Homo sapiens: one gene and its partners. The protein of the gene in region 1 interacts with the protein of each later gene in a pairwise test. Each region holds a gene or a part of one and is shown in the gene's direction. Other genes may lie near its edges.

What was found.
Region 2: the proteins of PRRC2A (region 1) and UBAP2L interact in a two-hybrid assay, tested with the Homo sapiens proteins (one study listed by BioGRID and IntAct).
Region 3: the proteins of PRRC2A (region 1) and PRMT2 interact in a two-hybrid assay, tested with the Homo sapiens proteins (one study listed by BioGRID and IntAct).
Region 4: the proteins of PRRC2A (region 1) and CCR10 interact in a two-hybrid assay, tested with the Homo sapiens proteins (one study listed by BioGRID and IntAct).

The regions. Positions count from the first base shown.
Region 1 is NC_000006.12:31,616,114-31,623,719, forward strand, and holds the start of PRRC2A (protein PRRC2A), read left to right. Parts: upstream 1-4,601; 5' UTR 4,602-4,745; intron 4,746-6,576; 5' UTR 6,577-6,676; coding exon 6,677-6,788; intron 6,789-6,965; exon of another isoform or gene 6,966-7,097; intron 7,098-7,606. Other genes in the region: AIF1 (allograft inflammatory factor 1), read left to right, coding at 1-397. UniProt on the Homo sapiens protein: May play a role in the regulation of pre-mRNA splicing.
Region 2 is NC_000001.11:154,244,937-154,251,958, forward strand, and holds part of UBAP2L (ubiquitin-associated protein 2-like), read left to right. Parts: intron 1-1,267; coding exon 1,268-1,439; intron 1,440-4,302; coding exon 4,303-4,501; intron 4,502-6,104; coding exon 6,105-6,382; intron 6,383-6,544; coding exon 6,545-6,717; intron 6,718-7,022. UniProt on the Homo sapiens protein: Recruits the ubiquitination machinery to RNA polymerase II for polyubiquitination, removal and degradation, when the transcription-coupled nucleotide excision repair (TC-NER) machinery fails to resolve DNA damage.
Region 3 is NC_000021.9:46,631,460-46,638,683, forward strand, and holds the start of PRMT2 (protein arginine N-methyltransferase 2), read left to right. Parts: upstream 1-4,214; 5' UTR 4,215-4,304; intron 4,305-4,979; 5' UTR 4,980-5,088; intron 5,089-5,436; 5' UTR 5,437-5,492; coding exon 5,493-5,531; intron 5,532-7,224. UniProt on the Homo sapiens protein: Arginine methyltransferase that methylates the guanidino nitrogens of arginyl residues in proteins such as STAT3, FBL, histone H4. Acts as a coactivator (with NCOA2) of the androgen receptor (AR)-mediated transactivation.
Region 4 is NC_000017.11:42,678,844-42,685,690, reverse strand, and holds CCR10 (C-C chemokine receptor type 10), read left to right. Parts: upstream 1-3,847; 5' UTR 3,848-3,867; coding exon 3,868-3,891; intron 3,892-5,073; coding exon 5,074-6,138; 3' UTR 6,139-6,802; downstream 6,803-6,847. Other genes in the region: CNTNAP1 (contactin-associated protein 1 precursor), read right to left, coding at 271-474, 553-700, 1,462-1,655, 1,769-1,870, 2,795-2,861. UniProt on the Homo sapiens protein: Receptor for chemokines SCYA27 and SCYA28. Subsequently transduces a signal by increasing the intracellular calcium ions level and stimulates chemotaxis in a pre-B cell line.

The DNA.
Region 1 (7,606 bases):
GGAGTTTGACCTTAATGGAAATGGCGATATTGGTGAGAAACGGGTGATTTGCGGGGGCAGGGTGGTGTGCAGGCCTAAGAAGACAGAGGTCTCTCCTACATGCTCCATTCCTCATGATTTGGGAGGGGGCCCACCTACCACAGTGGGAGGAAGGAGAATGGGGATGCGGAAGTGGGAGAGGAGAGAGAGGGTCTCCCCACCTTCTCCCCATCCCCATCCTCTGCCCCCAGATATCATGTCCCTGAAACGAATGCTGGAGAAACTTGGAGTCCCCAAGACTCACCTAGAGCTAAAGAAATTAATTGGAGAGGTGTCCAGTGGCTCCGGGGAGACGTTCAGCTACCCTGACTTTCTCAGGATGATGCTGGGCAAGAGATCTGCCATCCTAAAAATGTGAGTGTCAATTTCCAACCTCCCCTGTACTTACCTGTTTTCTCCTCCCCCATCCCTACCCTTGTCCACAGGCTCAACATTTCTACACGTTGCCCATCATCCCTTCTTCCATCCTTAGAGGGACCCTTCCAAGGTCCCGACCCCATCCCTATCCATAGTCCTGGTCCCCAGAAACTCCAACCCCTGCCCTTCCTCTTCCCCCTTCCACCCTCACATCCCCATCCCCTTCTAGCCTTTCCTAGCACCCTATGATTTATTCCCTTGAGAGGAGTGTTCCCTGATCCCTGTGCCTCTTCCCATCTCAACCAGGATCCTGATGTATGAGGAAAAAGCGAGAGAAAAGGAAAAGCCAACAGGCCCCCCAGCCAAGAAAGCTATCTCTGAGTTGCCCTGATTTGAAGGGAAAAGGGATGATGGGATTGAAGGGGCTTCTAATGACCCAGATATGGAAACAGAAGACAAAATTGTAAGCCAGAGTCAACAAATTAAATAAATTACCCCCTCCTCCAGATCAAGTCAGCTTAGTTTTTATTTGGGTGATTTTTTTCCTGGGTTTGGGAAGGAGAGACAGGTCTTGAGGGAAAGGTGGCAAGGATTTGGCCATATGAACAATCCATCAACAACGCTATAGTGTGTCCACTACAGCAGATGGTTTCACGCACCAAGGGGGATTCCAGCTGTGTAAGACAGCCTTAACCTCAAAGAATGCAGGCAGGTCAAAAACACATGTCCAAACAAGGTACTCAGGCCCATGACAGATTTCATGAAGAGCAAGGAATACCATGAACCAACATTCTCCACCACTATAAGCTTTGTCACTTTGACAAATCACTCAGCCTCTGTGAGGCTTTTTTCTAAAAATGGGGATAAAGTGACCTATGCTATTGTGCCTGACATATCATAAGCCCTCAATAATGTTTAAAACTTGAATGAGCCGGGGCCGATGGCTTATGCCTGTAATCCCAGCACTTTGGGAGGATGGGGTGGGCAGATCACCTGAGGTCAGGAGTTCGAGACCAGCCTGACGAACATGAAGAAACCCCGTCTCTACTAAAAATACAAAATTAGCCTGGTGTGGTGGCGCATGCCTGTAATCCCAGCTACTTGGGAAGCTGAGGCAGGAGAATCTCTTGAACCCAGGAGGTGGAGGTTGTGGTGATCCGAGATCGCATCATTGCACTCCAGCCTGGGCAACTAAAAAGCGAACTCCGTCTCAAAAAAAAAAAACCGAACATACAAACAAACAAAAAACACTTGAATGGGTAGATGAATGAAAGAACTGGTGCTATTAAATAAAGCAAAGAATTTACAGCTGGGCGTGGTGGCTCACGCCTGTAATCCCAGCACTTCAGGAGGCCGAAGCGGGCAGATTACCTGAAATCAGGAGTTGGAGACCAGCCTGGCCAACATGGTGAAACCCCATCTCTACTAAAATACAAAAAATTAGCTGGGCATGGTGGCAGGTGCCTGTAATCCCAGCTACTCGGGAGACTGAGGCAGGAGAATCGCTTGAACCCGGGAGGTGGAGGTTGCGGTGAGCCGAGATCACGCCATGGCACTCCAGCCTGGGTGACAAGAGTGAGACTCTGTCTCAAAAAAAAAAAAAAAAAAAAAAAAAGACTGGAAGGAGAAACTCATTGGAGACAATGACTATGGACATCCCTTTTAAGAATTTTGCTGCAAAGGGTAACAAAACGGTATGTGTGGTAGCCGGCCGGGGAGAAGGGAGAAGAGAATCATTTTGGAAGTTTGAAAACAGAAGTCATCTTAAATCTTACTGAGCCTCTGACTAAAATTCTCATCTGATTTCCGCAAACTTTTCTGCCTTCACTTTTCATAATGAATAAGCCGCCTCCTTTATTTAGCCATATCAGCCTAGGCACAGGCCCCCAAACTCATGCCTCCACTAATCTGTTCTCTGCACCTGAGATGTACACCTTCTTCTGAAACTTGGGTAAGTTCTAACTCGTTCTTCATATCTATTTATTTATATATTTTTGACAGATATCTACTCCGATCATTCTTCATATCATTTTTTTTTTTTTTTCCTGAGATGGAGTCTCATGTTGGCCAGGCTGGTCTCCAACTCCTGACCTCAGGTGACCCACCCACCTTGGCCTCTCAAAGTGCTGGGATTACAGGCGTGAGCCACTGCTCCCGCTCCCGGCCCTTTTTTTCTTCTTTTTCTTTTTTTTTTTTTTTTGAGACGTAGTCTCACTCTGTCGCTAGGCTGGAGTGCAGTGGCGTGATCTCAGCTCACTGCAACCTCCGTCTCCCAGGTTCAAGCGATTCTCCTGCCTCAGCCTCCCAAGTAGCTGAGACTACAGGCACGCGCCACCAGTCCAGCTAATTTTTGTATTTTTAGTAGAGACGGGGTTTTGCCATGTTGGCCAGGATGGTCTCCATTTCTTGACCTTGTGATCTGCCCGCCTCAGCCTCCCAAAGTGCCAGGACTACAGGCATAAGCCACCACGCCCGGCCTCATATCTCTTAATAAGAGTTTTTCTAGAAACATTTCTCAATCACCCCAGGCATAATCATATTTTATTTCTCTACTTCTTTCTTTTTTTTTTTTTTTTGAGATAGAGTTTCGCTCTTGTTGCCCAGGCTGGAGTGCAATGGCACGATCTTGGCTCACCACAACCTCCGCCTCCCAGGTTCAAGCGATTCTCCCGACTCAGCCTCCCGAGTAGCTGGGATCATAGGCATGCGCCACCACGCCTGGGTAATTGTATTTTTAGTAGAGACGGGGTTTCTCCATGTTGGTCAGGCTGGTCTCGAACTCGTGACCTCAGGTGATCCGCCCGCCTGAGCCTCCCAAAGTGCTGGGATTACAGGCGTGAGCCACCGCGCCCATCCTTCTTTTTTTTTTTTTTTTTTTTTTTTTTTTGAGACGTAGTCTTGCTCTGTCACCCAGGCTGGAGTGCAACCTCCGCCTCCCTGGTTCAAGGAATTCTCTGCCTCAGCTTCCCGAGTAGTTGGGATTACAGGCGCCCGCCACCACGTAGGGCAAATTTTTGTATTTTTAGTAGAAATGGGGTTTCATCATGTTGGCCAGGCTGGTCTTGAACTCCTGATCTCGTGATCCACCTGCCTAGGCCTCCCAAAGTGCTGGGATTACAGGCGTGAGCCACCGCGCCAGGCCTTATTTCTCTACTTCTATAATATCCTGTGCATTATCTCCAGCGCCTTCAAATCATAGTCATTGAATGATCTGTTGAATGGGTATAACTCTGATGGGAGCAGAGAGTTCTAGAATCGGGTAGTAAGAGACAAAGGAGGGTAACAGTACTGCATTTCACAAAATGAAACCCATTGTTAAGAAATTACAAATTCCCAATAATTTCAAATATAAAAATTTATTCATGAAAATTATAGGTTATAAAATTAAATGTCCGTCTTAGTCGATGGTTGCCCATATTTTGATGAACGAGTCATTCCTAGCCTATCTTTGTTCAAATGATTTGCATACATTATGCAAATAGGTAGAACTGCCCGAAGAATGCCTACGCTGCGTGGTGCGGACGAAACGCTTCCCGGGGCCTTTGGATTGGTCTGTCTAGCCACCTCATTTGCATGACGTAATATAATAACTGGAAGGCCCCGCCCCTCTGGTGCATTTCCCCGCTCCAACCACCTCCTCAAACTCACGGCAAAGGGATGCGAGAGCTGGAACTCTTACCAGGCCTGCGGAAACTCAGCCCTCCGGCAGCTAATCCCGCCCGCCAGCCCCCGTCCTCTCTCTCTTTCTCCCTAGCTGAAGGCGCCACGGGCCGTGTGTCGTTGCCTTCCACTTTTGGCGTCCCAACGTCTCTCCGCTCCCATCTTTCTACTAACGTCCGACGCACGCTCCGCCTCTTTCTCCCACATTCGTCGTGTAAATTCTGCGTCCCAACCGCCCAGCCGACCTGCACCGCATTCCCGCCCCCTCAACACGGCTCAACGGCCGACGCTGGGGGCCCGCCTCCTTAGCCAATCGGGGTCCTAGTGCCCTTAAGTCCCTCCTCTTTATGCAAATAACCTCCGCATGCTCCGCGCGCCCGGCCCTTTTTTTTTTTTTTTTAAACTAAAGACAGCCCTGGAAGTAGAGGGTTAGGGTAGAAAGTGCCCCGCCCTTTATGCAAATTAAGGGGCGTGTCTAGGCGCGGAGGGAGGTGGGAGGTGGGAGGGGGTGCTCCCGGGGGCGGCGGTTGCCCGGATGGGCCGTTAGTCGGGGCTCAGCCGCGGAGTGAGCGAGGGAGACGGGAGGAGCCGAACCCGGCGCCATCCGCCGCCATCCTCCCCCGCCCCACCGCCATCCCGTCCCGGGGAGCCCCTAGGCCCGGGTCCCGGATCCCCGCGCACCCGGCCAGGTGAGTCTGGGTGAACCGTGCGCTGACGCCCTTTTCCGGCGCGGGAGAGGTGGTGGCGGTGGCGGTGGCGGCGGCGGCGGCGGTGGTGGGCCGGGGGGAGGAGAAGCTGCCATTAGCCGCCGCCATTTTGTCCTCCTGCTGCCGGGCCTGCTTGCCCCTCCCCCTCCGGTACCTCTACTCCGGGACCCGCACCTCCGGCAGTTCATTCAGGATCCGTAGTCTGCCCCTAACCACCCACCGTCTTGGCTTCAGGGGGTGACCCCTGCGCCTGGGTCCGTAACTCCCTACCCTCCGCTGCGCTCCTGGCTTTTCACCCCCATTTGTGGGCCCCCTCCCCGGCTGCCGCCCCGTGGTGGTGGGCCGCGCCCGACGGTTCTCTCGGAAGGGCGCTTTTCCTCCATATTGGACCCCCTCCTATCATCCAGCGCTGTGTTCCCCCCTCTGGACGCCCCTCTTCGTGTCGAGCCACTCCCACTCTAGAATCCTGCTTTTATCCCAGCATCTTTGCTTTCTATGTTGCTCAGTCGCCCTATGTCTGCTTTTTCATTTTTCCTGTTCCTCGTCTCCTTTCTCCCCCAACCCCGTTTTTCTTCTTGGGCCTCTGCCCCCTTACTTCGTTGTCTACATCCTTTTTTTTTTTGCCATTCCTGTTTCCATATATTTTCCACCTGCTTTCGTATTCATTATTTTCTGTTAGTTTTGGTCTATTCGCTACATGACTCTTGTATTCGTTTTCCCTTCATATATTTATCTTCACAGATTGGCCTCCTCAAACACCTACGAAGCAACATCCATCTTATCTCTAGCTTGTCATAAAGTTCTTTCTCCCCAATTTTAGCTTTCATTCTGGGCCTGTCTGGATTTCCCTGCTTTCTTCCCCACTATTTCTCATCTCTTTACACTGTTCCCGTCCATAAACGAATGCCTGGTCACTCTGGAATGGACTGAGAGACCTGTCGTCCGGCTTGCTTAGGGAGCTGGAGGTATCGAGTAAAGAAACACTGGTGATGGACATTTTTAATGAGGATAGGAAAACGAAGATGGCTCTGGCCTTGGCCCTCTGTTTTCTGGCCCATGGTTACAGGGTGCTAAGGTGGCTCCATAATGCTTTTTCTCAGTTCTTCATATGGTAAAACAGTATTTCATCTGGAGGCGATTTTTTCCAGGAGCCAATACAGGAGCAAGTTTAGGAAAAGATGGGATATTTCAAATACTTGAGGTTCCTATAGCCTGGGAGTATGTACAGCCCTAGTTGTTCTATGAGGATTTCTCTGGTACCAACCCCCATTCCGGCTGAGCAAGCTCATAAAATCCTTAAACTCCCAGCATACCTTCCTGCAAACCTTCCCAGATGGACACGAGGCTGCTGGGCTGGGAGCCTGGGGTACAGGGCCCTGGGGGCATGATTAGGGAGCTTGTGTCCAATAAACAGGGAATCTAAAGTGTTGTTTCTTCTTCTCTGATGGAATTGTATGCTTCTTTTTTAGTTTTCTCTTGCTTGAATTTGTCCTGTTGTAAGTCTCTGAAACGATTTTGGTGGAGAGAGAAGAGATTATTACTTGTAGGGAATTACTCTTTGTAGACAGGCACAAAGGGCAGAGTGTTTATACTAGGAGGATGCTGGATTTTTACTTAGATTTCCTTGACAAAGGTGTCTGGGGGAAAGGAGGGAACATGGCATTTGAGCTATGAGGGAGCTAAGTAGATCATGGTTGCTTGAGAAGAGTGGGCAGTTTACATAGACTGGAGGAAAAGACACCAGAGGGCCTCATATCTGAGTCCCTAATGATAATGCAATGGAGTTTTTAAGTTTCTGTTATGGTCTGTACAGGGGACAGAGACTGAGACACTTGCTGTCTGGCCCACAGGCTCTGGCACGTTTTGGGGGAGGTGCCTGCAGGACCCAACATACTCAATGAGCTTCCAGCGCAATGTCCGATCGCTCGGGGCCGACTGCCAAGGGAAAGGATGGAAAGAAGTATTCCTCGCTCAACCTGTTTGATACGTATAAGGGCAAGTCCTTAGAGATCCAGAAACCCGCTGGTGAGAGTCCTGCAAAGATGCTTCTGATGGTTGAAAGCTAGGCATGCATGGGGCATACGTTTTAGAGCTCTTTAAAGGGAAGTGGCTGTAGTAGAAATACCAAAAGACTAGAGGAGATTTCCCAACTTTACACTGGGTCCTTTAAAGGGGGTGTGGGCTCTGGGTGAACACCAGTTATCCTCCTACAAAGGCGTGTCTGTGGTTCCCTGTCTTTGGACACGTAAGAATTGGAGGAAAATAAATGTGGATTTGGGAAACTTTGAGGCCAGCTTGCTTCTTGCAGGCTCATGATCAACCAATCTCACATAAAAGTATTGAATGTTACATATCTCAGCCTTCTTGATAGGGATTTCATAGATTTTTTTTTTTTTTTTTTTTTTTTTGAGACCAAGTTTAGCTCCTGTTGCCCAGGCTGGAGTGCAATGGTGTGATCTTGACTTACCACAACCTCCACCTCCTGGGTTTAAGCGATTATCCTGCCTCAGCCTCCTGAGTAGCTGGGATTACAGGCATGCGCCACCACACCCGGCTAATTTTGTGTTTTTAGTAGAGACAGGGTTTCTCCATTTTGGTCAAGCTGGTCTTGAACTCCTGACCTCAGGTGATCCGCCTGCCTCGGCCTGCCAAAGTGCTGGGATTGCAAAGTGTGAGCCACCACAATCAGCGCGATTTCAGAGATTATTAAGGGCAGGGGAAGGAATCCCTTCTAAGAGAAGTTTGGAGGAAGTAGGTAATAAAATATTCAACATGTATAAATGTGTCCCAGGATAGGAGGCCATCAGATCTCCCACATGAGGCATTTTCGACCCTCTCTCCGT
Region 2 (7,022 bases), on another chromosome or scaffold:
GGTCTCTTTTTTTGAGACAGAGTCTCACTCTGTTGCCCAGGCTGGAGGGCAGTGGCACAATCTTGGCTCACTGCAACCTCCGCCTCCCAGGTTCAAGCGATTCTCCTGCCTCAGCCTCCCGAGTAGCTGGTATAGTAGGCACCCGCCACCACGCCAGGCTAAGTTTTGTATTTTTAGTAGGGTTTTACCATGTTGGCCAGGCTGGTCTCAAACTCCTGACTTCAAGTATCCGCCTGCTTTGGCCTCCCAAAGTGCCGAGTTACAGGTGTGAGCCACTGCATCCAGCCTTATCTGGTCTTTCTAGTGACCAACCCTCATCCTGAAACTATCTGGGGCCCCACCCTGGGCTACCTCATTAGCATTCAGGTATGGTTGAAAGAAGTGTGTTATGAGTAACAAAGGACACTATCACTTAGGAAATTCTAAATGTTTTAGGAGCTCCATGCCAGGAACAAGGCAAAGCTCAAGTATATATTATACCACAGGTAACTTTTGAAATTTTACGAAAATTGTGGGAAAAAATATCTCTCAGACTGCCCCTGTTCTAAAGCCATTTGAAGATTCCAGTGTTCTGGTATATGATTTTCTGTTTTAGGAATTGGTAATGACAGGTATTCAGTATTAAAATCATGGATAAGTACTTGTAAGTTTTGGCTGAGTTATTGAGCTGCCATGTTAAAACTAGCATTTGAGGCCGGGTGCGGTGCGGTGGCTAACGCCTGTAATCCCAGCACTTTGGGAGGCCAAGGCGGGCGGATCATGAGGTCAGGAGATTGAGACCATCCTGGCTAACACGTGAAACCCCTTCTCTATTAAAAATACAAAAAAAAAAAATTAGCCGGGCGTGGTGGCAGGCACCTGTAGTCCCAGCTACAGGCTGAGGCAGGAGAATGGCGTGAACCCAGGAGGCAGAGCTAGCAGTGAGCCAAGATTGCACCACTGCACTCCAGCCTGGGTGACAGAGCGAGACTTTCTCGAAACAAACAAACAAACAAAAACTAGCATTTGATATTTCATTAAATTAATAACTTCACTTAAAAAATTAACCATTATTATTGGCAACATCAGTGGAATTCAGCTATATACTGTAGTGACTCTTATGCATCAGTTATTTTGGGACATTTAAGCATTTCAAGGCTTTTGTGTTTGAACCCTTTTAGAAGAAGCCCCAGCAAGTGGCTTCATTTTGATCTAATCTGATTTGAGTGTTGGGGAATGTTAGCGTGTTCAGTCATTCTTCATGAAGATCCCTTCCCTTCCCCATTAGAATTGACCTTGCTGTTCTGCTGGGGAAGACACCATCTACAATGGAGAATGATTCATCTAATCTGGATCCGTCTCAGGCTCCTTCTCTGGCCCAGCCTCTGGTGTTCAGTAATTCGAAGCAGACTGCCATATCACAGCCTGCTTCAGGGAACACATTTTCTCATCACAGTATGGTGAGTAGGAAACGTGGTTTATCCTAATCAAACCTTCCTGCTAATCCTAGCACACATACACAGTTCCTTCCAAAGACAGTCAGGTTTTTGGCAGGTGAAGCATCCTCTTTGTCTTCTTAAGCAGACTTGGTTGTAGAAATGTTTGAGTTGGGTAATAGGGGGTAGCTCTAAGAGAGGACTTAGTTCTGGACAGACTGAATATTCTTATAAGAATAAGTTAACATTATTTATTGACTACTCATTGTGCTGAATGAACACCATTTGCCATTACTCTTGAGAGAAAATCAATGACATAAACTTGTCAATACATTTTAATCCTTTTGCAGCCCTCATTAAACTATGATGGGAGATTGTAGCAGTTCCCCATTTCTTGATGGATCAGAATTGTCTTGTATATTTACTTAAACCAGGTATTTGTAGACAAGGCCTCCAGAAACCTATGGTCTTCCCATTTCTGCCACTTACTAGCTGTGTCTCCATTTCTATGTAAATAGGGATAAAAGTGCTAGTCCTTCCCATCTTCCCAAAGGTGGCTATACAAGTGTGGTTTCAGTAGTGATATTATAAATAACTTAGAACTTATGACATATTACTTGTTGACTCAGAGCATTTAAAACATCCAAGGTCATTAACGACATCAAAGGAATCATTTAAACTAAACAAAGATGCTACAAGTACCAGTTTTCTCATAGTCATTGAGTCCTGAGAAGTACTGCTTTTTCTTTTTTTCTCTTTTTCTCTCCTATTTTTTGATGGAGGGATACTAAAGTTGTAAGCAGACCATGTGTGTGCATATAATTTTATTTTTCCAGTTAGAGTAATTAGTTTAACTAGAAAACTGCCAAGCTAGCTACTAATTCAGAACTCGGTCAGTTTTTAATTGTTGTCTTAAAATGTTTTTTGTGTGTGTTAAGTTAGTAATTTGGTGGTCGATGTCCTGCCACATAGGAAAGGTAACAGGTGAGAAGAGGTGGGAGGAGAAGGGAAATGGAGAGAAGTGTTGGGATTAAATAGAAAAAGAAGAAAGAAAATAGGACAAAGGTTGTAAGAAGGTGTAATGAAGATCAAGAAGTAACTACCAACCCTTAAAGATAAATGACTGGAAAATGTGATTATGTGATCTATGTCTCTTAATTGCCCTCTTAATGTCTGGAATTGTGAAAATTTACAACGAAATCAGACTTTTGATATCAAAAAGATGTTTTCAGCTGGGGACAGTGACACGTTCCTGTAGTCTCAGCTACTCTGGAGGCTGAAGTGGGAGGATTGCTTGAGACTAGGAGTTCAAGACTATAGTGAGCTTTGAGCTCACCACTGTACTCCAGCCTGGGTGACAGAATGAAACCCTTTCTCTAAAAAAAAATTTTTTTTAAATAAAAATGTGAAAACTAAGTATAAATACTATTCTGTTTTTTTGTTGCCTGTACTAATCAATATGTTAGATAATGTAATTTCCTTTCTATTGAGAATAAATGTTAGAGGATTAATTTCACTTAAAATTTAATAGAGCTAAATAACATGGGAGTTTCTTTATATTTTTATGTATAATACAGTGAACACTAGGTAATTTTAATTGTTTTTATTTTTTATTTATTTTTTATTTTTTTTTGAGACAGAGTTTCACTCTTGTTGCCTAGGCTGGAGTGCAATGGCGCGATCTTGGCTCACCGCAACCTCCACCTCCTGGGTTCAAGCAATTCTCCTGCCTCAGCCTCCTGAGTAGCTGGGGTTACAGGCGCCCGCCACCACGCTTGGCTAATTTTGTATTTTTAGCAGAGACAGGGTTTCACCATGTTGGTCAGGCTGGTTTAGGACTCCTGACCTAAGGTGAGCTGCCCGCCTCAGCCTCCCAAAGTGCTGGGATTACAGGCGTGAGCCACCGCATTCGGCCCAGTGATTACCCTATAGAACTTGTATGTACATGGAGAAAACAATCAAATCATACTGACTTGCTACTTGATTGTCTAGTGCAGAAGTTGGGATGCCCTTTAACTTTTCCTTTTTGCCTCTGTGCTAGTTATTAGCAGCATCGAGATGAGGCTCCAGTTAATTGTTGTTTCTTTTGAGTTTTTTTAATGAGAAGGGCAAGGACCTTAATGGCAAAAGTAAAATCTTATATTACATTTATGTTAATTGTATTGGTTGATTTAAAAATTCTCGGCTGGGTGTGATGGCTCACGCCTCTAATCCCAGCACTTTGGGAGGCCGAGGCGGGTGGATCACGAGGTCAGGAGATCGAGACCATCCTGGCTAACACAGTGAAACGCTGTCTCTACTAAAAATACAAAAAATTAGCCGGGTGTGGTGGCGGGTGCCTGTAGTCCCAGCTACTCGGGAGGCTGAGGCAGGAGAATGGTGTGAACCTGGGAGGCGGAGCTTGCAGTGAGCCGAGATAGCACCACTGCACTCCAGCCTGGGTGACAGAGCGAGACTCTGTCTCAAAAACAAAAACAAAAACAAAAATTCTCCAGTCAGCCAAATTTTATCCCTGAGAAGCAGGGAGAAGGAAGTAATGATGATATGAAGTTTTAATGGCTCTGTTTTTTTAGTGATTACTATGTGCCATACATGTATTAAGTGCTTTAATTTATTTAATCCTCCTACAGCTTTACTTTTATTCCTATTTCCAGATGAGGAAAGAGAGATTAAAAAATAGTTTTTCCAAGCTTACATAGCCAGGATTTCAATCTAAGACAGTCTGACTCTAGGTCCTATACTCTAGTGGACTATGCTGTATACTCAGTGTGACAGTATTCTTTACTTGCCTGATCTATACTGGCTCTCGGTCTGGATAAGTGTCTTTATGAGTAGCTGAACAAGGTTACTGGCTGTAGGTTTCTCTCATCTCTTTGTTGATCTACAGGTGAGCATGTTAGGGAAAGGATTTGGTGATGTCGGTGAAGCTAAAGGCGGCAGTACTACAGGCTCCCAGTTCTTGGAGCAATTCAAGACTGCCCAAGCCCTGGCTCAGTTGGCAGCTCAGCATTCTCAGTCTGGAAGCACCACCACCTCCTCTTGGGACATGGGCTCGACGACACAATCCCCATCACTGGTGCAGTATGGTGAGAAGATGGAAAGTGACTTGAATCTTTAAAGCATTGGAGCATTACTGTCAAGAGGCTAGCAGGGGGAGGGGGTGGAGAATGTGTCCTGAAGTGAAGAAAAGGGGCAGCTAGTTGGTTACCTTCCCACATGTATTTCCCCTAATCAAATAAGCTGAATTCAAGAAGTTGGGGAATAATAAAATTTGAGGCTATGTATTTCTCATCACATTTAGAGGCTGGGCATGGTAGCTTACACCTGTAATCCTAGCACTTTGGGAGGTTGAAGTGGGAGGACAGCCTGAGCCTTAGGAGTTCAAGAACAGCCTGAGCAACATATCAAGACTCCATTTCTAAAAAAATTGTTTTCAATTAGCTGAGTGCGGTGGTGTGCACCTGTGGTCCCAGCCCCTAGTGAGGGTGAGCTAGTGTGAAGCTAGCTTTCCGCAAAAAAAAAAAAAAAAAGAAAAATTTTTAACCATATACATAGTTGCAGTCTTCTGTTGATTGGGGTTTTAATTATTATTATTATTCTCCTTAGATTTATCTTCAGTGTTTGAAAATAACATATTGCCTCCAGGTTCTTAGGCTTAGCCATCTTAAGACCTTATACAGTAAGTCTTCACTTAATGTCATTGATAGGTTCTTGCGACTTTATGCGAAACATAAGACAAGGTCTAGTTCTGTCATCCAGACCGGAGTACAGTGGCACTATCTTGGCTCACTCATCTTCCTGGGCTCAAGCAGTCCTCCCACCTGAGCCTCCTGAGTAGCTGGGACCACAGGCTTGTACCACCATGCCTGGCTAATTTTTAATTTTTTGTAGAGATGGGTTTTCACCGTGTTGCCCAGGTGTGTCTCTTGGGCTCAGGCGATCTGCTGGTCTTGGCCTCCCAAAGTGATGGGATTGCAGGCGTGAGCCATTGCACCTGGCCATTTTTTTTTCCTCATCAACATTATAATGAAATCATGTTGAAGGAAACAACGTTATGCCAAGATATGCCATGCCTTGTTTTTGCTTAAAGCCAGTTTCCAAGCACCTATGGATGTTAAATGAGAACTTGCGGTACTTTAAACTTGGACAATTTGTGCATTCCTGTCTTACACAGACAGGGTAATGTTGATTTAGTTAGGCTTTATTTAAGGATGGTTGTAGGCCAGGTGCGGCAGCTCATGCCTGTAATCCTAGCACTTCGAGAAGCCGAGGCGGACGGATCACTTGAGGTCAGGAGTTCGAGACCAGCCTGGCCAACATGACAAAACCCCGTGTCTACTAAAAACACAAAAATTAGCCAGGCATGGTGGCGCGCGCCTGTAGTCCCAGCTACTCTGAGGCAAGAGAATTGCTTTAACCCAGGAGTCGGATGTTGAAGTGGGCTGAGATTGCACCATTGCATTCCAGCCTGGGTGACAGAGCAAGACTCCCATCTCAAAAAAAAAAAAAAAAAAAAGATGTAATCCAGTGATTGTCACCTATAGAAATGAGATTAAGCCCCAAAAGAGGGCCTGCTTATATGAGTTTCTGATTTTTACAGTCCTCATTCATGGTGCTAGTGCAGGACAATAGCATTTCCTTGAGATTCATTAGCATCTCTGGCTTCATATACTGGGTTTCCTCTTGCAGATTTGAAGAACCCAAGTGATTCAGCAGTGCACAGCCCCTTTACAAAGCGCCAGGCTTTTACCCCATCTTCAACCATGATGGAGGTGTTCCTTCAGGAGAAGTCACCTGCAGTGGCTACCTCCACAGCTGCACCTCCACCTCCGTCTTCTCCTCTGCCAAGCAAATCCACATCGGCTCCACAGATGTCGCCTGGATCTTCAGACAACCAGTCCTCTAGCCCTCAGCCGGCTCAGCAGAAACTGAAACAGCAGAAGAAAAAAGCCTCCTTGACTTCTAAGGTACTTAAACTTTTAGGTAGATACCATTTTATGGCAAGGGGTGTGGGGCTTGAGAATTGAGATTAAAAGGGTAAGTTTGGAAATTTAAAGGGAAGGGTTTTTTTTAGTCTTTAGTAAGGTTGTATTAAAGCCATTACTTTCTCTTCTCCTTCAACTTTATAGATTCCTGCTCTGGCTGTGGAGATGCCTGGCTCAGCAGATATCTCAGGGCTAAACCTGCAGTTTGGGGCATTGCAGTTTGGGTCAGAGCCTGTCCTTTCTGATTATGAGTCCACCCCCACCACGAGCGCCTCTTCAAGCCAGGCTCCAAGTAGCCTGTATACCAGCACGGCCAGGTAGAGGAAACATTAACCATAAGACCTCTCTTATTAACCTTTACTACTTTTTTAATCTGTGGGAGATTTCTAGAACTCTGGAGAGGCCAAGCCCCTCTGCATGGCTGAGGGGGAAAGTAGTCAGTCATAGCATTTTTAGTGCTTTAAAATATTGTTATTAGGGTTATCTGTAACTAAACAGGTAGAAATATGCCCCTTAGGGGCTGGGTGTGATGGCTGACACTTATAATCCCAGCACTTTGGGTGGCCAAGGCAGGAGGATTGCTTGAGGCCAGGAGTTCAAGACCAGCCTGGGCAACATAATG
Region 3 (7,224 bases), on another chromosome or scaffold:
CATCTGTTGTTTCCTGACTTTCTAATGATCACCTTTCTAACTGGTGTGAGATGATATCTCATTGTGGTTTTGATTTGCATTTCTGTAATGACCAGTGATGAAGAGTTTTTTTTCACGTTTATTGGCCGCATTAATGTCTTCTTTTGAGAAGGGTTCATTTCTCTTCATTATTTTTTCTCTAATCTTATCTTCACACTTTATTTCATTAAGTTGATCTTCAGTCTCTGATATCCTTTCTTTTACCTGATTGATTTGGCTATTGATATTTGTGTATGCTTCATGAAGTTCTCGTGCTGTGTTTTTCAGCTCCATCAGGCCATTTATGTTCTTCCATTTGGGGCTGGGTTTATAGTTTTGTAACCCCTATGCCAAATGTTGACACCTTATAGTAATTGGCAGGGATAAGTAGGAAATTGCTTGATAAATAAATGCAAACAAAAATGTATGCTGGCAATTCTTAAGACATTTCTAAATTACTTTGCCACTATTTTTAAAGCTAACTTATTTATTAAAGATTTTAAGTAAACTTAACATTTGACTAGTCTTTCCCTTTTTCTAATAAAGTATTTTATTTGAGCACTTTTATTTTTCTTTAATTAATAAATAAATAATTTATTTGAGCACTTTTATTTTTCTTTAAGCCAATTAATTATAGCTCTTCTATATTTTTTAATAGAGAAACATTGTGTACGCAACACATAAATACATAGATGTATTAGGTATACCGATAGAAGTACATCTTATAGATTCCTAAGACCTCTTTTTTTTTTTCTATCTTAGACTTGCAAACTCTTGATCATCTGTGTCATTGCCCTGGCAGTTGCCGGCTAAATAGCCCTAAATCTGCATATTAAAGGAAACTATTAGATGAAAAATTAGATAGCAAAATTTACATTTTAAGGTACAGAGAGGAAAAAGTCTGGTGGTGCTAAAGAGAGATTAAAAATGGATGTGAAATCAAACATAAAATTATGAAAATCTATCATAGGATTGTATAAGGAGACCAGTTTTATTTAGACAGAGACTCCCTATATTTTAACTGGATCTCTGAGCTCTGGGCAGACCCTACACTGAATCCTGGGTCTCCAAAAAGCGAAAATTATTATGAGGTTAGACTACATCATGCTTTTACAGTGCACTTAAAAAACTTTTTTCAACAAAGACATTTCTACATGTCTAAACTATACTATTCCTTAAGAACTCCAGAGTAGCCTCTGTTGCAGTAACTATTTTAGTAAAAAAATTAGGTAACACAATACAAAAGCAAGCAGTTTAAGAGCTGAGATGAAAAAAAAAAAAAGCTGAGATGAACTTGTCTGTTTACACATTTGGGGTTCCATAAGGAAACAGAGGTTTCTCCTCCAAGGGGAATCTGGCACCTTCTCCGTTTTCTGTAAGGAACCCTGGGTATTACAAACTATATTAGGTTTCCCATGAAGCAGAGGGTGCAAGAGAAAGAAGACACGACAAAAGTAAATGAAGAAAACAGAAGCCAGTCAACTAAGAAGAAAAAAACTTTTGCTCAAAAAGACAAGGTCCTAGGAGAGAAAAAAACAAAAAAAACAAAACTGGAAGCCTTTTAAATACAAACACACACACACAGGCACACAACACACATATGTTGGATGTTAGCTTTTAATTAAGCTTTTAACCATTGAGCTCCTTAAAAATAAACTTTTTCAATCTCATTACTGGCTGGGCATGGTGGCTCATGCCTGTAATCCCAACACTTTGGGAGGCCGAGGTAGGCGGATCACTTGAGGCCAGTTTGAGACCAGCCTGGCCAACATGGTGAAACCCCATCTCTACCAAAAAAATACAAAAATGAGCTGGGTGTGGTGGTGCAGGCCTATAATGCCAGCTACTCAGGAGGCTAAGGCATGGGAATCACTTGAACCTGGGAGGTGGAGGTTGCAGTGAGCTGAGATTGTGCCACTGCACCCCAGCCTGGAACACAGAGCCAGACTCTGTCTAAATAAATAAATAAATCTCATTATCATATTTCAGCTAGGACTAATTGCTGCTATTTCAGAAGTACCAAGTATCAAACCAGAAAGGGCTTAATTTAGGAACTAAACCCAGGCTGTGGTGGTGGAAAAAAAGAAGGCAGAACCCTTAGGTATGGAACTGCAGTGTGGGGTGACAGACATTACTCTTTTTGGTTGGTCTGGCTAGCAAAAATGTGGCCTTGTTATGTAAGAAAAGCCCTTTAAGTAGTCAAAATAAATTTTTTTTTTCTTTTTCCTTTTGCTAGCTGTTTTTCTCCCCCCACCACATCACCTTTTGTGTGTGTGTGTGTGGTGGGGAGGGGTTGAAACTTAGCCACTTCAGAGGCCTCACTTCTCATAATTTGGAACTTTCCTTTGGTTTCGATCAAGTCAGATAGAGTTCGTCAAACTCAATGCGAAAAAGACAAAAGAACAAAAAACAGAAACAACAACAAAAAAACCAGTTAAGCGAAACGAAGGATTGGGCAATTTATAAGGTTACTGAGCACACTAATGGTAAGGAGAAATTAAGACCAGCTGGTTGTTAATCTTAATAGCCAAGACAAACCCCAATTCAGTTACTTCCTAGGGATGGGTCTGAGGCTGAAGATTGCTCTCTACCACCCTAGAAGCAGAGGAAGAAAACCCCTCATCTTTCCTGTGGGAAGCGAGCTCAAACTCCATAAACGAGTTACCTGCCTTCCATTGTCATGGAAGCAGGAAAAAACTACTACTTCCTTATGTTGGAAGAGAGTAAAGCACACCCCGCCCCCCAACCCCCGCCCAACACACAAAAGGAGTTGTACAGCAAAATAAACTAGATCTTGACTAAATCTGGGTAGATCAGGGATTCTCTGGAGGGGGTGCTTCCAGGCCTCAGCAAATTGTCCTATTGGTTTGAGCCATAAAGATAGCTCAAGCTGGTACTAAGGACTGACAGATTTGTCAAAGGTCAGTGGCACCTCTACTCAGAATCCCTTTGTGGTTACCAAAATGTGAACCTTGAATATCTGAGTCAGATCTCAGTCAACTTAGGAAGTTTATTTTGCTGAATTTAAGGATGCACGCCCATGACACGGCCGTCGGAGGCCCTGATGACATGTGCCCAAGGTGGTCAGAGCACAGTTTGGTTTTATACGTTTTAGGGAGACATGAGACATCAATCAATATATGTAAGATGAACATTGGTTTGGTCCGGAAGGGCGGGACAACTCAAAGCAAAGGCAGGAGGGAGCTTCCAGGTCATAGGTAAATATGAGACAAATCATTGCATTCCCTTGAGTTTCTGGTTAGCCTCTCCAGAGGTGGCAATCAGATACGCATTTATCTCAGTGAGCTGAGAGATGACTTTGAACAGAATGGGAGGCAGGTTTGCCCTAAGCAGTTCCCAACTTGACTTTTCCTTTTAAGCTTAATGATTTTGCGGCCCCCAAATTTATTTTCCTTCCACATTTTTTTTTTTAAATCAGACTTAAGGTCTGCCTTGATGTTAATGCTGGAGGAGTGTAAAAAGGCATGTCCAACTCTTACTTCCCTTCGAGGCCAGAATAGTCTCTCAGGTTGAACTTCAGGGTCCCCTGGTAAAGGAGGGAGTCCAGTCAGACGGCTGCGGGGGAGGGGGGGCTTCGAATTTTATGTTTTACAGGCATTAGCGCCACCCATTTCTCCTTAACCCCAAACTTCCTCTCCCCACAACAGAAACGTCATCATTCTGCTTCCACTTATCCAGAAGAAAGGCAGAGGGCGCACACTGCGCAGCGCGGATGGGAAAGTTAACTGAATTATTTGCGGGAAGACAGAGGAGGTGGGGGGTCCCCCAAGCCCCAGCCATTTTGTGGCTCGTAGGGGTTGTCGCTTCCCAAGCCGTGAATGGCCCAAACCCGCCCCCCGCCCCAGGTCGGACTCCTGCCCCGCGCCCCTCTGGGTCGGACCCCAAGCCGAGCCCCCCAACCCCGCGGCTGGGCTGGGCGATTGGGGACGAGCTCCACACATGGAGAACCTGGCCTCGCCTCGCAAGACCGCGGGACGCGCAGATGTGAAGTGCGCCTGCGCGGGGCGCAGCCCCAGCTGCAGACGATCTGTGAGCGACGCGCCGGCGCAAGTCGAGGGCGGTGGCTTGGCTTCCCTGGAATGGGGGACGTCTTAGGACTGCGCCTGCGCGGGGCGCCGGGCCCTGGGCGGGGCCTTCCCGGCTGACGGCCTGCGTGCACTGCGCTTGCGCGGGTTGAGGGCGGTGGCTCAGGCTCCTGGAAAGGACCGTCCACCCCTCCGCGCTGGCGGTGTGGACGCGGAACTCAGCGGAGAAACGCGATTGAGGTAGGTGTCCTGATGGGCAGCTCAGATGGCTGGACTGCACGTAAGGAAGGACAGGCCAGGTGAGGCGTCCTCGCACTGCGTGTGCGTCGCTGGCGGACAGAGGCCTCCGCCCCCTTTTGGGACCTCCGAGCGCCTTCGCGATCTCAGCCACTTTCCCTGGCGTCCAAACGGGAGCTCGGTCCCCGTCACACCCTTCCCTGCGTGCCGCACCCCTTCCCGGCCACTCCCGCCGTCCAGCGCCTTCTACGGCCACGCCCACCCCACCACCATCTCTGTCACGCCCTTCGCGGCCACGCCCACCTGCCTGGCGGCCCCTGCCCCGAAGCTCGCGGCGCTGTCCCAGCCTGACCCTCTCGTGCCCCTGCGTCCACGCGTGGCCCTCTCGCTTCCTGCCCCCTTCTCACCCCCCTTCACTGGCCACCTGTTCCAACCCTCCATGATCCTGTTCCTCCCGAGGGCATCTTAGGAGGGCAGGGTCCTGCGCGCACTGCGGCCTCCACTCCGACCCCGTCCCAGTTTGGACCCAGGTCTTCCAATGAAAATATAATTATGCAAATCAGTAAGCATTTGTAACTACGAATATCACAAAAATAAGCTTCAAGTCTGGATTTAGAAGTGAAGCATGCATTTTAAACAAAGAATTGCTATGCAATTTTAAAAACACATTGATCCCAGAGCAGTGTGTGGATTACACTATCACTGGAAAAATACGAATTGAGAAGAAGGAAAAGACTGGAAGATGCAGACCTTGGTTCCTGTTAGTGGAAACACTGTAAGGTCCCAGGTAGGGACTTTTAATTGGAATTAAAGCTATCACACTTCTAAGAAATTAATGAATACTGATTTATTGCCTTAAGTCGACACCTGATCTAACAGAAACTAACAGGCTTCAGCAAATGAACAAGATTAACACCTTGCAGACTAGTGAAGAAAACACACTATTTGAAGTTTATGATTTTTAAATGCTTTTGTCTCTGTAAAGTATTGTAAATTTTCATTTCTACACTAATCTTCACACATACACATTTTACTTCTATTTGGTAGAGGACATCATGCACATTAGAAGTTAAGTGAACTCAATTATTAAGCAATGTAACAAGTACTTTGTGTCTCCTTCTCTTTTTAAAAGTAGAAATGGAAAAGAAAATGAAATAAATCAGCAGTTATGAGGCAGAGCCTAAGAGAACTATGGCAACATCAGGTGACTGTCCCAGAAGTGAATCGCAGGTAATTTCCGTTCCACTTCCTAAAAATCTGTGTTTAATGAATGTGAGCATTACAGAGAGCTAAGCGTCAGCTCACAGATGTGATGGAGCTTGGCTTGTGCCTTGGAAGGTGGCCACCGGCAGTAGAATGCTTAAATGTGAAGATTGTGAGGCAGAGGAAACGCAGTGCCTGTAAGGTGACATCCTGCATTGGGCACCATAACAATTCTAAGGAAATACTTAGCCCCAAAACATCAGCATCATTTAGGGTTCCATTTTTGGTACGTGAACTGGCAAAGCAAGCATATTTTCTGAGCTGTTCAATAAAATTTCAGGCATAATACCAGCAATATATTGAAGGCAAGTTGGACACATTAGAAAAGATTTATGTATTCATACTGTTTCTGCCTGGGGTACTCATGTAGTTTCGTTCAAGTTAGCAGTAAAAAATACCCCTCAAATTGTAAAGACTGTTGATTATGTAAAAGTCACCAACTGAATAATAGATACTGTTTTTAAAAATCAAGCATTTCCGTATCTGTTATGTCAATTTTAATGTTTTCTTTTTTTCTCTTTCATTCCAATGAGCTTTCATTTGGCTTTTTATATATAGGAATTTTATTTATAGTCAGAATCTTTCGTTAATTTCTTTAATTATTCATAAAATGTTTTAATTCCGTGGACATCTTATTTTTCTTTTGAGAAATTTAACAAATATTAGGACATTTCCAGAATGATATTGTAAACATCAAGTACATTAAACAGTGTACATTAAGCTATATATATGTGTGTGTATATACATATATGTGTGTGTGTGTGTGTATATATATATGTATATGTAAAAAATACTGTCGGGTGTGTCTGTAGTTCAGCTACTCAGGAGGCTGAAGCAGGAGAATCACTTGGGGCCGGGAGTTTGAGGATGTGGTGTATTATGATTGTGCCTGTGAATAGCCACTGCATTCCAGCACGGCCAATAAACTGAGACTTCATCTCTTAAAAAAGAAAAAGCGACACTCTAGATAAAGTTTGTTCCCCAGTCTCAGTCCTATTCCTCCTCTTCTCTCTCTAGAGGCAAACACTACTGTGAATCATGAGTCTGTTTTGTGCCACTGCACCATTTTTATACCTCTATGGCTTATATAGATATACTTGAATGACATATGATATTGTTTGTGTGGGCTTTTTAGAGTTTCCATAGTGGTGTCATACTGTCAGTGTCACCTGTAGCTTGCCTCTTCATATAACTTTACCTTTGGGGAAGTTGTCCTTGTTATGTGTGTAATGCTGGTTCAATCCTGCCACTGTAGGGTACTCCTGTAGTGTGTTCCTTCTCTGAAAGTGTAAAGTATCCTATTTGTAGATATGTGTATGGGCCTGTTGCAGTCTCACTGCTACACAGTAGGCATATACCCCATTTTACTTATTCCCTTTTTGTTGGACACTTAAATTGTTTCTAGTTTTTTCTATTTCAAACAATGCTGTAGTGACCATCCGTCTCCATGCCTCTGTGCTCCAGTAATGGCATTGCAGGGTGCAAGGGATTGCAAGTTTCAGTTTTACTGGATAATGATCAGTTGTTCCCCACAATGACTTTACGAGTTCACAGGTCTGTCAGTAGCCCACAATAGTGCTTACTAACACTTGACAGTATCAGACTTTTAAGTTTTGGTCAGTCTCATGGGTTAGAAATGGTATTTTGTTATTTCAATTTT
Region 4 (6,847 bases), on another chromosome or scaffold:
TGTGTGTTTACAAGGAGGGAACTGAGGCTCGGAAGTGCCCCATCCGAGGTCACATCTCTGTGTAGTGGTAGAGCTGAGACTGGAATCCAGTTCTCACTCAACTCCAGTGTTTTGCTAGCACCAAATGCTACAAGAAAGGGGCAGTTTGGTCCAGGCCTTAGAGAAGTGGAAGACCAGGCTGAGCGCGGATGCGCGGAGGAGGTGCCACGAGGAGGGCGGTGAGAGAGCTTCAGGGGTTGGCTCCGCATCGCACATGGTCGCCGAGCTCACCCAGGCTCATGTGCAGCAGCAGGTGTGCCCCCTCCAGCTCGAGCGTCACGTAGTCGCCCTGGGCGCCCTCGGCGTGCAGCAGAAGACCGTCCTTCTCCTCGGTCTTGAAGCTGAAGGCGAACACGTCCCACAGGCTTCGGCTGACCCCTCGCGGGAAGCGGTAGGAGATGGCATCGTCGCCGTCGAAATAGAGTATGTCGGCCTCTGCGCAAAGGACCGTAGGTGGGCCGGGAACTGGGGAGGCTGTCTCCCAGGCCCCCTCCGCGCTCTCTGCACACTTACTGTATGGGCAGCCATAGAGGCCGAGCCTCAGGCCGATCTTGCCGCGTGGGTTCCAGGCCAGGGGCACGATGCGGATGTAGCGCGCAGTGAAGTGGAAGTGCAGGTCATGGCGCACCACCGCCGACTCGTTCACGTTACCAAAGAAGGTCTGCGGGGGTGGAGGAGAGTAGTAACCACGTCCTGCCCTCTGCTTCTTTTTTTTATTTTATTTTTTGAGACAGAGTCTCGCTCTGTCGCCCAGGCTGGAGTGCGGTGGTACGATCTCGGCTCACCGCAACCTCTGCCTCCCGGGTTCAAACAATTCTCTTCCTCAGCCTCCCAAGTAGCTGGGATTACAGGCGCCCGCCACTACGCCCGGCTGATTTTTTTGTATTTTTCATAGAGACGGGGTTTCACCATGTTGGCCAGGCTGGTCATGAACTCCTGACCTCGTGATCCACCTGCCTCGGCCTCCCAAAGTGCTGGGATTACAGGCGTGAGCCACTGCGCCCGGCCCCCCTCTGCTTCTTTCTCCATAGCCTCCCAGCCCACAACTTTCACACCCAGCCAATCTCGACTTCTGGAAAGTAAACACTCCTTGGTCTTCCCTGCTTGGCGGCTTTGCCCGCACAGTTTCCATAAAGTGCCCTGTCCCACAATCCTATTATTTCCTCAGACCTGAAATCAAATGTCACCTCCTTAGGAAGCTCTCCCAGGTTTTACCCTAAAGTGTGTTAAACCCTGTGAACCGAGTGTTTCGCGCACGTCCTAAGCTGACAGTCCCTCTGGACAGAGTCCCTGGAGTGGAGTCACTGCTCCTTGTCCGAGCCCTCACCACCACCCCCTCCATTTTCCCAGAGGCTGGTGCCCGGCCCAGAGCCTGGAGCAGAGGAAGCTCCCCAAGTGTTACCGCCTTGGCGCCCAGAGTACCGAGTTGTGCCCTCGCTGGTAGAACGGTGTCCAGCTGTCCACTCGGTCGCCGTAGAGTAGCATGTAACGTGTGACCCAGTCCCAAGAATTAAAGGAGCCCTGTGTGGCCACGGCCCGGATCCGGTGCTTCTTCATTAAGTCTATCTGGAGCCAGGGATTCGGATCCCCAATCCGTGGTGACCACCCGCTTATGCCTATAGAAAGGACAGGAGCTTTAACCGGCTATCCCTCTCCCCGAAGTCCTCCGGAGGCCCCCACCCTTCCGCGGTGCGCTGCCAGTTGGCAGCTGATGTTCCGCGGAGCTCACCGTGCAGCCTGGCGAATCTCGGCGCAGTAAGGAGACTGTAGTAGGAGGAGGCGCCCAGGGAGCGTGCATACAGGGGACCCACCAGCTCCTCGTCGCAGCCGTCTAGGGTAGGGAAACCGACTGTTAGTCAGCGCTGGCCCCTCCCAGACCCTTCCAAAGGCCGGCCCACTTAGCGACCGAAGCTTCCCCTTCCGTGCCCCCAACCCCCGCCCCCAGAGGCACACCCAGCCCTACCTTAAAGCCATCTATTCAATCCTGGCTGCAGCAACAGCTGCATGCTCAGAGGAGGCTACCTTCTCCTTCTAGGCAAACCCCTAGGCTACACCTATAGGCCCAAGGCCAGACCCTCCCTAGCTAGCCCAATACCTGCCCTGGTTTAGTACTTTCCCAAACTCAATCCTAAACCTCAGCATCTTCCACAACCTAAGTCAACCCAAGACACCAATCCAGCTCCAACCCTAGCCTCAATCCAACTCGGCCCCCAAAACCTGCACCATCCCCAAATACAGGCCTTGCACCCAACCTCAGCCAGTGCTAGCACCATCACCAGCTCCATGTCCAGCCTTAGCATCAGTCAGGGGCACCAGCTCCTGCTTGGATCCCTGCCACAAAACCCAGCCCCAGCCACAAACCCCAGCCCTAGCCACAAACCCCACCCCTTGGCCAGCTCCAAAGTCCAGCCTTAAGCCCTGGCAAAACCTTAATCCTAGTATCGGTCACCAGTATACACTTATCCCCCAGCCCTAGCCTCAAACCCAGGCACCAGCTCCTGCTTGGATCCCAACCCCAAATCCCTGCCCGCTGACTTCATCCTCTTCCCAGAGCCCAGCCCCAGCCCCGGGCGCGCGCGGCAGCCTCAGAGCTGCAATGCGGAGCGCGGGGGAGAGGCAGGAAAAGATGAGAGCCAGCGGGCGCGCGCCGGCCGGGAAGGACCCGCGACCACCCAGCCGCAATGCGGTTCGGGGCCGCCCTGCAGGCTCTGGACTCCTGGGCCCAACCCCACCTGCCTCCAAGCCCAACACTCACAGTAGCCCCAGCCCTCGGCTCCTGAGACCGCGGCGAGCAGGATGCAGAAGAGCCGGAGATGCATCATGCAGGGCTGACGGTCCCGGCAGCCGCCTCCCTGTGAACGGCTCCGGCTAGGGCTCGAGTTCTGGCTTGGGCTCCAAGCTCTCCTCCTGGGGTTTGCAGCAGACCGCTCTCTCCTCCTTACCCACCCTTCCCTCCCTCTCTCCTTTCGCCCCCAAGCGCTCTGTCTCTCCTCTCTCTTTTCTCTCTCTCTCTCTCTGGTTCCTGGTCCTCCGCTCTTCTCTCTCTATCCTCTCCTTTCCACCCTCTTTCCTCTCACCTCCCCCCTTCCCCAGCCTCTGTCTCCTGGCACGCGCCGGTTTCCCGGACCCCGCGCAAGCGCGTGCCTCAGCCCTGCTGCGAAAGGGCGGGGGTAGAGAGCCTCTCGCCACCGGGAAAACCCCAAGTAACCCGAGGCTGCCCGGGACTAGGGCCACAGGAGTGAGGACAGGGAACCTAGGGCCAGAAGCATCCTGAAAATTTCAAGAAAAGGGAGGTGGTTTGGGGGAGGGGTGCCTGGAAATGGAATGAAGGGTAAGTAAAAGAATCTTAACATTTTCGGAAGGCAAATTATGCTCTAGGAGTGGTGCTGGGCACTGTGAATTTAGCATTTTTGCCCTACTCCACTTTGCAGATGAAAAACCTCAGGCTCAGAGAGGTCAAGAAACTTAGTCAATATCACACAGCAAATGATTATATTCCGAAGCCCGTTCTTTCTTCACTGACAAAGACAGTAAATTATTTTTTCTTTCTTTCGTTCATTCTTTTTTCTTTCTTTCCTTCCTTTTTTTCTTTCTTTCTTTCTTTCTTTCCTCTTTCCTTCCTTTCTTCTTCTTTTTTTTTTTTTCGTAAAATCCAGATCCTGCACAAGAGAGTGAAGTCTTTTGGAGGAGGTGGAATGGGAAAGTGACCCCGTAGACCCTAATCCCCACCTCCCTCTCGGCCCCTCTCCCCGCCTCTTCCTTCCTGTCCCGCTAGTAGTTTAACTTCTACCCCCTGTGGCTATACCTCAGAAACCTGTGTAGCCAGAGATGGGGACGGAGGCCACAGAGCAGGTGGGAGTGGGGGCAGGGAGGGGGAGAAGGGTTACAGAGAGGGAGGAGACAGGGAAGGAATGGGATTCCCCACCTGGCAATGGGCCTCTGCCATCCTATGGCTTATTCAGGATTCTTGGCGCTGTCTCAGACTAGGGGTCCTCCAGATAAATGGGCTGGTGGTGTGAGGCTGGGGTTGTGGGACAGGGACTAGGGCTGAGGGGAAAGGCGGGTTGAACCTAGAGGTCCAGGGTCCCACCTGGGCCCTGAAAACCTGAGTCCCAACCCTGGAGACCCCCTTGGCATGAGTGGTTCAGTGTGCTGGTATTGGAGGTACAGGGAAGGTGGGTATGGAAGGGAAAGAAGAGAAACAGAAACCCACTCCAGACGGAGGTTGGAGTCCAGGGCTCAGGTCTGAGGCAAAGCCTGCATATGGGCATCCTTCCAGGAGAGGGCGCTGCAAAGGGAACTGAAGCTGTAGGATTTATTAATAATACAAACTTTGGGCTGGGCGTGGTAGCTCAGGCCTGTAATCCCAGTACTTTGGGAGGCCAAGGTGGGCGGATCACCTGAGGTCAGGAGTTCGAGACCATCCTGGCCAACATGGTGAAACCCCATCTCTACTAAAAATACAAAAATTAGCTGGGCGTGGTGGTGGGCGCCTGTAGTCCCAGCTACTTGGGAGGCTGAGGCAGGAGAATCTCTTGAACCCGGAGGCGGAGGTTGCAGTGAGCCGAGATCGTGCCACTGCACTCCAGCCTGGGCGACAGAGCAAGACTCTGTCTCCAATAATAATAATAATAAATAATAATAATAATACAAACTTTGTATTATGGCCTTTGGAGAACACAGGTTCTCCCCATCCATTATTTTCCATATTGCCATCTTCACAGCAAACCTTGAGAGGTGGGCTGGTCAGGATTTATAATCTCAACATTACAGGTTAGGTAACTGAGGTCTAGAAAGAGCAAGTGGCTTGCTCAAGGTCACCCAGGAAGCTGGAAGCAGAGGTAGGAGGGGTGCAAGGGAAGCCAAGGCCTGCTGAAGGTGTGCTAGGAAGAGTCTGGAGAAGAGCTTATGTCTCCCCGTGTACTGTTACATCTGGCCACACAGGAGCTCTCAGCTTGGAAGGCAAGTGTGGGCGGGGGAGTTGTGTGGTCAGATGTGTCTCATAAGATCCCGCCTCTCATTTGACCCTCCCAGGTTTCCTGGGGCCATTACTCTGGGGATGAAGAGGACGCATACTCGGCTGAGCCACTGCCGGAGCTTTGCTACAAGGCCGATGTCCAGGCCTTCAGCCGGGCCTTCCAACCCAGTGTCTCCCTGACCGTGGCTGCGCTGGGTCTGGCCGGCAATGGCCTGGTCCTGGCCACCCACCTGGCAGCCCGACGCGCAGCGCGCTCGCCCACCTCTGCCCACCTGCTCCAGCTGGCCCTGGCCGACCTCTTGCTGGCCCTGACTCTGCCCTTCGCGGCAGCAGGGGCTCTTCAGGGCTGGAGTCTGGGAAGTGCCACCTGCCGCACCATCTCTGGCCTCTACTCGGCCTCCTTCCACGCCGGCTTCCTCTTCCTGGCCTGTATCAGCGCCGACCGCTACGTGGCCATCGCGCGAGCGCTCCCAGCCGGGCCGCGGCCCTCCACTCCCGGCCGCGCACACTTGGTCTCCGTCATCGTGTGGCTGCTGTCACTGCTCCTGGCGCTGCCTGCGCTGCTCTTCAGCCAGGATGGGCAGCGGGAAGGCCAACGACGCTGTCGCCTCATCTTCCCCGAGGGCCTCACGCAGACGGTGAAGGGGGCGAGCGCCGTGGCGCAGGTGGCCCTGGGCTTCGCGCTGCCGCTGGGCGTCATGGTAGCCTGCTACGCGCTTCTGGGCCGCACGCTGCTGGCCGCCAGGGGGCCCGAGCGCCGGCGTGCGCTGCGCGTCGTGGTGGCTCTGGTGGCGGCCTTCGTGGTGCTGCAGCTGCCCTACAGCCTCGCCCTGCTGCTGGATACTGCCGATCTACTGGCTGCGCGCGAGCGGAGCTGCCCTGCCAGCAAACGCAAGGATGTCGCACTGCTGGTGACCAGCGGCTTGGCCCTCGCCCGCTGTGGCCTCAATCCCGTTCTCTACGCCTTCCTGGGCCTGCGCTTCCGCCAGGACCTGCGGAGGCTGCTACGGGGTGGGAGCTGCCCCTCAGGGCCTCAACCCCGCCGCGGCTGCCCCCGCCGGCCCCGCCTTTCTTCCTGCTCAGCTCCCACGGAGACCCACAGTCTCTCCTGGGACAACTAGGGCTGCGAATCTAGAGGAGGGGGCAGGCTGAGGGTCGTGGGAAAGGGGAGTAGGTGGGGGAACACTGAGAAAGAGGCAGGGACCTAAAGGGACTACCTCTGTGCCTTGCCACATTAAATTGATAACATGGAAATGAGATGCAACCCAACAACTGTTACTATTTTTGAGTCACCGACTTGGAAGTGATTTGTGGCGGGGCAGAACCGGTGGGTTAACACCCCGCCCCCGCCCCACCCCCCGCCCTGCCCCGCGCTTGGCTCTCTGAGTGGAAGACGCTGAGGGCCTGGGTGGGGGTGGGGGGCTGCTGAGTCTGCTAAAGCTCTAGCCACTGACACCCCCTCCACCGTCACCTGGCCTCAGCCAACAGAGGTGAGGTGGGAAAGCTGCCAGGCAAGGAGGGGCGGTGGTTCCTCTTGCAATACTGTAAGGAAGAGCTTTCTAACAACCAGAGCGCTCTCCAGTAATGGCTGCCTTAGCAAATACTGAGTTCCCGCTATTGGAATGTTCAGACTGTCGGGGACGCTGTGGGCCTTTGCGTGGTGTGGGGGGAGGGGGAGGGGCAGGGGATTCCCGTTTTTGGTGGGCGTTTGGATTTCATAACCACTTTACAATCCCTTCCTAGTGTCTGTGATGGAAAGAAAAAATGAAAAAATGAATTGTAAAATTTGAGTTGAAGTTTTTCCACCTTGAAGAAAAACCTAGGAGGGAT